Linked DNA regions of Homo sapiens. The gene in region 1 interacts genetically with each later gene. Each region holds a gene or a part of one and is shown on either strand. Other genes may lie near its edges. The genes, in order: YTHDC1 and NUP85.

What was found.
Region 2: changes in YTHDC1 (region 1) and NUP85 together harm fitness more than expected from each alone (negative genetic interaction), as found in Homo sapiens cells (one large-scale study listed by BioGRID).

The regions. Positions count from the first base shown.
Region 1 is NC_000004.12:68,333,004-68,336,824, reverse strand, and holds part of YTHDC1 (YTH domain-containing protein 1), read left to right. Parts: intron 1-3,427; coding exon 3,428-3,517; intron 3,518-3,821. UniProt on the Homo sapiens protein: Regulator of alternative splicing that specifically recognizes and binds N6-methyladenosine (m6A)-containing RNAs.
Region 2 is NC_000017.11:75,232,969-75,236,579, forward strand, and holds the end of NUP85 (nuclear pore complex protein Nup85), read left to right. Parts: intron 1-89; coding exon 90-190; intron 191-1,668; coding exon 1,669-1,820; intron 1,821-2,131; coding exon 2,132-2,233; exon of another isoform or gene 2,234-2,234; intron 2,235-2,609; coding exon 2,610-2,711; 3' UTR 2,712-2,790; downstream 2,791-3,611. UniProt on the Homo sapiens protein: Essential component of the nuclear pore complex (NPC) that seems to be required for NPC assembly and maintenance. As part of the NPC Nup107-160 subcomplex plays a role in RNA export and in tethering NUP96/Nup98 and NUP153 to the nucleus.

The DNA.
Region 1 (3,821 bases):
GCTACAGAATGGTTGTGTTGTAAATGAACACAAGTCCATTTGATTCTGTATAAGGAAATGTATTTCAGATTTCTGTAAATTCTTAGATTTTCATACCAGTCAGCAGTTTATTTAAACACTGATGTACTTGAAGTATATTCATAGGAAACCTGTCCACTGGGTATTACAGTATTTCCTTGGTAAAATACCCCTAGATTTCCATCATATGGCTTCAGAATCAAAACAGATTATTTCTTTTTTATCTCTGGGAGCACAGACTTTTCTTCTAATTTTGTGTCTGTCAGTTGACTGGCTGAGACAGGGTCGACAAGAGGGCTGGGGTGTAAGGTATAAGATGGAGATGAAGACTATAAATAAAATTCTTGTGGAAAAATCAGGTAAGAACCATCTTCAGTCATTTCTTCAATGCTATATATATCCTGCCTCTCTATACCTATGAGACAAAAATGTATGACTGTTACGTAGTTGGAGGCACTAGGCTTAGGGGAACTTTTCTTGGGGGAGGGTACAGCAAGGAGAGGTCAGGGTACTTACAGAGCACTATATGATGATTATAATCTCATGACTGTCTTATGTAAAGATGCTACCAGATTGCTACATAAGCAAAATGTACTAAACATAAGAAAATTCCTATTTTTTTGAAATACATTTACAGTTTATTATAGAATTTGATCATTTATAATAGTACATTGTTTTATATATATAGTATATATAGTATAGAAAAGTACTTCAGTTGCCAATCACTAGAAGATAACTGGCCATCTGCTCTACCTATACTATATACAGATAGTATATATCTATACTATATATTTTATACTATATATTTATACTATATGGATAGTATATATCTATACTACATACAGTATAGGTAGAGCAGATGGCCAGTTATTTTCTAGTGATTGGCAACTGAAGTGCTTTCAACCTTTTGTTCACTAGAATTCTAGGTTTGGGAGTTAAGATAGGCTTTTCAAGGGAGGTAGAGTTAAACAGAATAGATGAGTAGTTGGATTTGTTGTAAAAACATATGAAATCTTTATGCTTCCATCATGCCTTTTACAAACTGATAGGATATATTTTTTATAATTTAAGATAATAAATATTTCATTAGCAGTATGTGTTGAATGTTCATTTATTGTGGAGAATGTATGAAACCACTCCCTTGGGTAGGGAACGTTTTGTTGTAGGAATCTTCTTTTTGGTATCTCTGTTATTTCTTAGACTTTAATGTTTGTATTGTTTACATTAAACAAAGGGAACTTACTTAAATGGGTAGGACCAGAAATTGCATTTGTAACAGGCTCCTAGATGATACCATAGTAAGGTAACTTGATTGACACACTTTGTTTTTGTGGAGAAGACATTTCAAATTAAATGGTAACTGTAGTTTTATAATAAATCTTGATATCAAAACTCTGTTACTAGACTAGGTTTATTCTAAAAGAGATACCTGAAAGTTTTATTTTCCTTATAAAGGAAAATCCCTTATGTGGAACATGCTTTAGGTACTATATTAATATGCAGGAAATTTTTTTTTATACAATAGTTTATGAAAGAGTAATGGGGTGATTTTGGAACTTCTTGATTAAGAGACGTCAGTTTTTAAATAAAAGTGATCACAGTTGAGTTTCTCTGTCATGAATTTTCTAGATTCCAGTTCATTTTACCTTATTCTCAGAATTTTTGGTAACTTTATAAAAGCAACAGACTGATTGATAACAGTTTATTTATTAGATGATTTTCATTGTTCTTTTGACCTGAGAGTAATAGTTGGGGGAGAGGGCCATAAACTTAAGAGCATTGGGAGTTATTCATACAAAAATGATGAAAATTCCTTGGAGATTTCTCATGCTAATGCTAGGTTTAGCATTATATAAAAACAATTGAGTAGGATCTTCTGCTTCTGTTATTTTCCCTGCATTATCTCAGATCTTTTTAGTAACTTTTTAATTATTGTTTTTGTCTTTATATAAAGAGGGTCTTGCTATGTTGCCCAGGCTGGTCTCGAACTCCTGAGGTCAAGTGATCCGCCTGCCTCGACCTCCCAAAGTGCTGGGATTACAGGCACGAGCAACTGCACCAGGCCCTTTTTAGTACTTTGGACCATGAAATAATTCTTTTTTAACAGCAACAAGAGATAAATTACACTCAGTCAGATGCATTCATAATGCTTAGACTACTGAAAGAAATATCCATGGGGGAAAAATTAGAAGAAACATGTCAGAACTTTTGAAAGAAATAATGAAAAAAGCCCCCAAAACTAGTTAAACCTGTAATCACCTTTCAAAAATAGTATAAAACATCCTTTCTACTTGCTCAAGCCAGAGGACCTGCCCTTGAGTCTAGGTTCTGCCATCCAGGAACTGTGGGACCCTAGTCTAGTTGCCTAACTGCCTGTCTAATTCAAGGTTTCTTCATCTGTAATGAGAATATCTTGTGAACTTGTTATGAGAATTAAAGGAGATAAGTAGTTAAAGCTTTTTAAATAGCTGTCATTATATAGTAGGTTATTGTATACATGATCACTGATTATTATTTTTCAGCTTTCCATTGTTTATATAAAAATAAGTATATGCATTTTTTTCTTCCTATTCCCTTATCTCTAAGCTGAAAAGTAAAAGGAGCTTATCATGGTAAAACTAAGATAAAAATAAACAGATAGGAGAGCTGAATTCCATTTCAAGTCCTCATGTATATGCTTACAAAGTTCCAAATTAAGCTTGGGACTGGTTCTTACATGGCAGGTAATCCAAACCTTTTCTATTTACTGAAGATTTTCAGCTCTCTTACAGAAATACACAGGCTACCATTAAAATTGTAGGGATAAATTTTAAATTGAATTTGAAAATAAGAGCAGTAATCCAGGGAGGAAATGGCTAAGGAGAATGAAATAGAAGACACAAAAACAAGCAATGGCAACCAGAAGGGAATCACTAATTATGGTATATATATTTTTCCAGTTGTAAAGCTTTGGGTTCAGGGGTTCATCAGATCTCTTAAGATAGAATCAGAATTGTAATTGTGCTGAAGAATGGTAGTGGAGTTTAAAAAAATAAGGACTTAAGACAGTGTTACCTGGTGTGTAGAAAGGACACAGTTTTGAAAGAAATTGTTTTTGCTTTGCAAATTTCCCCCCCCGCTTGGAAAACTGTATTCAAGGCCACCTATATATGGCAATTAAGGCCCTGACTTTGTAGTTATTTCGTGTGTTTTTATTTGATTGAAACTGATGAAAGAAACAAGATGCCCGTACTTTTTAAACAGTATTTTTAAAATAAAACATTCTGAGGAAATTGAGGGATCAGGAGAGAGGAGCACAGACTAATAGAAGGGCTATGCAAAAACTAGACATGTAATGATACATTCTTGTTTGATTACTTCTCTTCGTTTCTGTATTGTGATTTAAAAAAAAAACTCTTGTTCTTTTTAGATGAGAAAAAGAAGGAAAGGAAGAGAGCTAGAGGCATATCTCCAATTGTTTTTGATAGAAGTGGAAGCTCTGCATCAGAGTCATATGCAGGTATTCTCATTTTGTGATCATATCTGACTTGATTCTAATGTAATCTGCTTTAGAAAGCGTGTGGAGGCTGTAGTTTAGTGTGAACTTGTTGATGTCCATTAGCACTGATTTTTGGCATGTTCAGTGTAATAATTCTAGAGAAAACTAAGCTTTTTCTTATTATTTTAATCCTGTTCTGTTACTGCTTAAGTGGAATTTTCACTTTTTTTTTCTTGGAAGATGATGATTCAGTGACTAGTTTTCTGAGTGGGAAACTGTTCAAATATACATACTTTTAAAAAAATCCAAACAACCCAAAAAGCAA
Region 2 (3,611 bases), on another chromosome or scaffold:
GTGGGTGCCGCTAGTGTTGGCTTCCCAGGGACTGGGTGGTTGAGGTGGGCCTGAGACTGCTGCTCTGATCTCTGGGCCGGGCCCTGCAGGTTCCTCAGGGATTACTGTGAGCGAGGCTGCTTTTCTGATTTGGATCTCATTGACAACCTGGGGCCAGCCATGATGCTCAGTGACCGACTGACATTCCTGGGTGAGTCTCTGGGTTTTGTGCCCTGTGCTTTGGGCACAAGTGGGTAGTTGGGGAGGTTGGAGGGATCACGTCAGACTTCTCCCAGCGCTTCCTTCATGTATTCCCATTGCATCAGTGGTCCCAGAAACATCCTCCGTCATGTCCAGGATCATGAGTTTGGCTGTCACATCTCCTTAGTGCCTCCATGTTTGTTTGTTTGTTTGTTTGTTTTTCTTTCTTTCTCTCTTTCTTTCTCTTTCTCTTTCTCTTTCTTTCTTTCTTCTTTTCTTTTATTTTTTCTTTTTTTTTTTTTTTGAGACAGAATCTTACTCGCTCTGTGGCCCAGGCTGCCAGGCTCACTGCAACCTCCACCTCCTGACTTCAAGCAATTCTCGTGCCTCAGCCTCCCAAGTAGCTGGGATTACAGGCACGCGGAACCACACCTGGCTAATTTTTGTATTTTATTTATTTATTTTTTGGGGACAGAGTCTCACTCTGTCACCCGGGCTGGAGTGCAGTGGCGTGATCTCGGCTCACTGCAACCCCCGCCTCCCGGGTCCAAGCAATTCTCCTGCCTCAGCCTCCCAAGTAGCTGGGACTACAGGCGCACGCCACCACACCCAGCTAATTTTTTGTATTTTTAGTAGAGATGGGGTTTCACCGTGTTAGCCAGGATGGTCTTGATCTCCTGACCTTGTGATCCGCCTGCCTCGGCCTCCCAAAGTGCTGGGATTACAGGCGTGAGCCACTGCGCCCCGCCTAATTTTTGTATTTTTAGTAGAGATGGGGTTTCACCATGTTGGTCAGGCTGGTCTGGAACTCCTGACCTCAAGTGATCCGCCCGCCTCGGCCTCCCAAAGTGCTGGGATTACAGGTGTGAGCTACTGTGCCTGGCCAGTGCCTCCATGTTTCTTCTTTTTTTTTTTTTTTTTGAGACGGAGTCTCACTCTGTCGCCCACGCTGGAGTGCAGTGGTACAATCTTGGCTCACTGCAACCTCCACCTCCCGGGTTCAAGCCATTCTTCCTCCTCAGCCTCCTGAGTAGCTGGGACTACAGGTGCATGCCACCATACCCGGCTAATTTTTGTATTTTTAGTAGAAATGGGGTTTCACCATGTTGGCCAGGTTGGTCTCAAACTCCTGACCTCAGGTGATCCACCTGACTCGGCCTCCCAAAGTGCTGGGGTTACAGGCATAGGCATGAGCCACCACGCCTGGCCTAGTCAATCTCTTTTAATCCATGACTCTTGTTATGTATTTTGACTCTGATGTTTCCCCAGATTTGGCTCTTCGGAGTTCTTCCAAGTCTGTTTTGAATGCTCTTGGTCTGCATCTCATTGGGACCTATGAGTTTGGAGACAGAAAAAAATCTCCTGCTTTGTGGAGTGGCTGGTCTGAGGTTTTTCTTCTCCTGTTTAGGGCCAGGGTGACTTTTGTAGGTGTCACTTGGGCAATTTGGGGGAATATGCAGGTTACTCAGTGCTCTTGTTTCGCCATAGGAAAGTATCGCGAGTTCCACCGTATGTACGGGGAGAAGCGTTTTGCCGACGCAGCTTCTCTCCTTCTGTCCTTGATGACGTCTCGGATTGCCCCTCGGTCTTTCTGGATGACTCTGCTGACAGACGCCTTGCCCCTTTTGGAACAGAAACAGGTGAAGGTTGCAGCAGCAGTGGTTTTCTTTGCTTGTCAGTCCCTGCTAGAGCTTAGTTGTATAGCTGTTGCCGATGTGCGTGTTTCCTCCTTTGTCGTTCTGCCTGTGCGCGTGTATTCCCCTTAGCGCCCTCTCTGGGATTCCAGACTCACACAGGAAACAAACACTGCTTGATTTGAAATGAGGTATTCGTATACAAAGCACACTATTGCGAAGGGTATGAAAGGAAGAACGTCCGAACATGGGCCCCTGCCCCAACCAATGCAGGCCAGGGCTGGGGGCAGCCAAGCAAGGCAGGCTCTCTTCCCTAGGTGATTTTCTCAGCAGAACAGACTTATGAGTTGATGCGGTGTCTGGAGGACTTGACGTCAAGAAGACCTGTGCATGGAGAATCTGATACCGAGCAGCTCCAGGTCATTTTCACTTTTGGGTTGATGGTTCCACATGGAGGTGGGAAAAGGCTCCCTCTATCTCAGGCTTCCCCTTCCCTCCAGAAACACTGGCTCCTATGGACACATGTGCCTCTGTTCCCCTTAACCTGTGTAATTCACACACCACCTTCTTTTAGGAGAAAATCAGGGATTCTAGTGTTCTCATCTCTACATTTTGTTCTTTGCTGTTCATCATTTCCAGTATGGCCCTTTGGTATTGCTTTCTTTTACATCGATAATTTGCTGGAAGCTACTATGAATGTTAAGTGCCCTCTACCTTTGGATTAGCTAGACCCTTCGGGAGTGTGAAAGGGCTCCTTCCTGCTCTTAGCTCATGCTGGCGCTCTCTGCTTTGCAGGATGATGACATAGAGACCACCAAGGTGGAAATGCTGAGACTTTCTCTGGCACGAAATCTTGCTCGGGCAATTATAAGAGAAGGCTCACTGGAAGGTTCCTGAGAACTGCTTCAATGTGGTATCTTTGTATGGCAATGTATATAGATTTTTTTAAAAGAATAAATGTTGTTTTGCAAATGTAGGTTCTTAGAGTCCACCCAGGGAATTTTTTATCTGTCTAGTCTGAACCTGAGGTGGTAAGAGATTAAAAAATGCTTGTTTTATGTTCTTTTTTTTTTGAGACGGAGTCTTGCACTGTTGCCTGGCCTGGAGTGCAATGGCACGATCTCAGCTCACTGCAACCTCCGCCTCCAGGGTTCACGTGATTCTCCTGCCTCAGCCTCCCAAGTAGCTGGGATTATAAGTGCACACCATACCCAGCTAATTTTTTTGTATTTTTAGTAGAGATGGGGTTTCACTGTGTTGGCCAGACTGATCTCAAACTCCTGACCTTGTGATCTGCCCGCCTTGGCCTCTCACAGTGCTGGGATTACAGGCGTGAACCACCACACCCGGCCTTGTTTTATGTTCTGATACGCAACTGTCTTCCTGTGCCTCCTTAGATAAGAAATCACCCCCCAGGTCGGGTGCAGTGGCTCACGTCCTGTAATCCCAGCACTTTGGGAGGATCCCTCAACCCCAGGAGTTTGAGACCAACCTGGGCAACATAGGGAGACTCCATCTCTGTTTAAAAAAAAAAAAAAAAAAAACCCCAAAGTTGTGGTGACTGCAGTGTCTTGGAAGTCTGAACAAGAACGCTTGGTGGTATACTTGTGCTTCTGAAATCTTGCCTCACCTCTTCTGGAACACTTAACATTTTGGTTATTTAGTTCCCTTAAAATATAAGCGTACAGGAACCCGCACTTTTAACAAAAACCTTGGGCAGTTCTATCATAGGCTGTCCTCATGTATATCTAGAATTCATAGGTGGTACCTTTTCCTCCATCAGGGTGAATGGCGTCT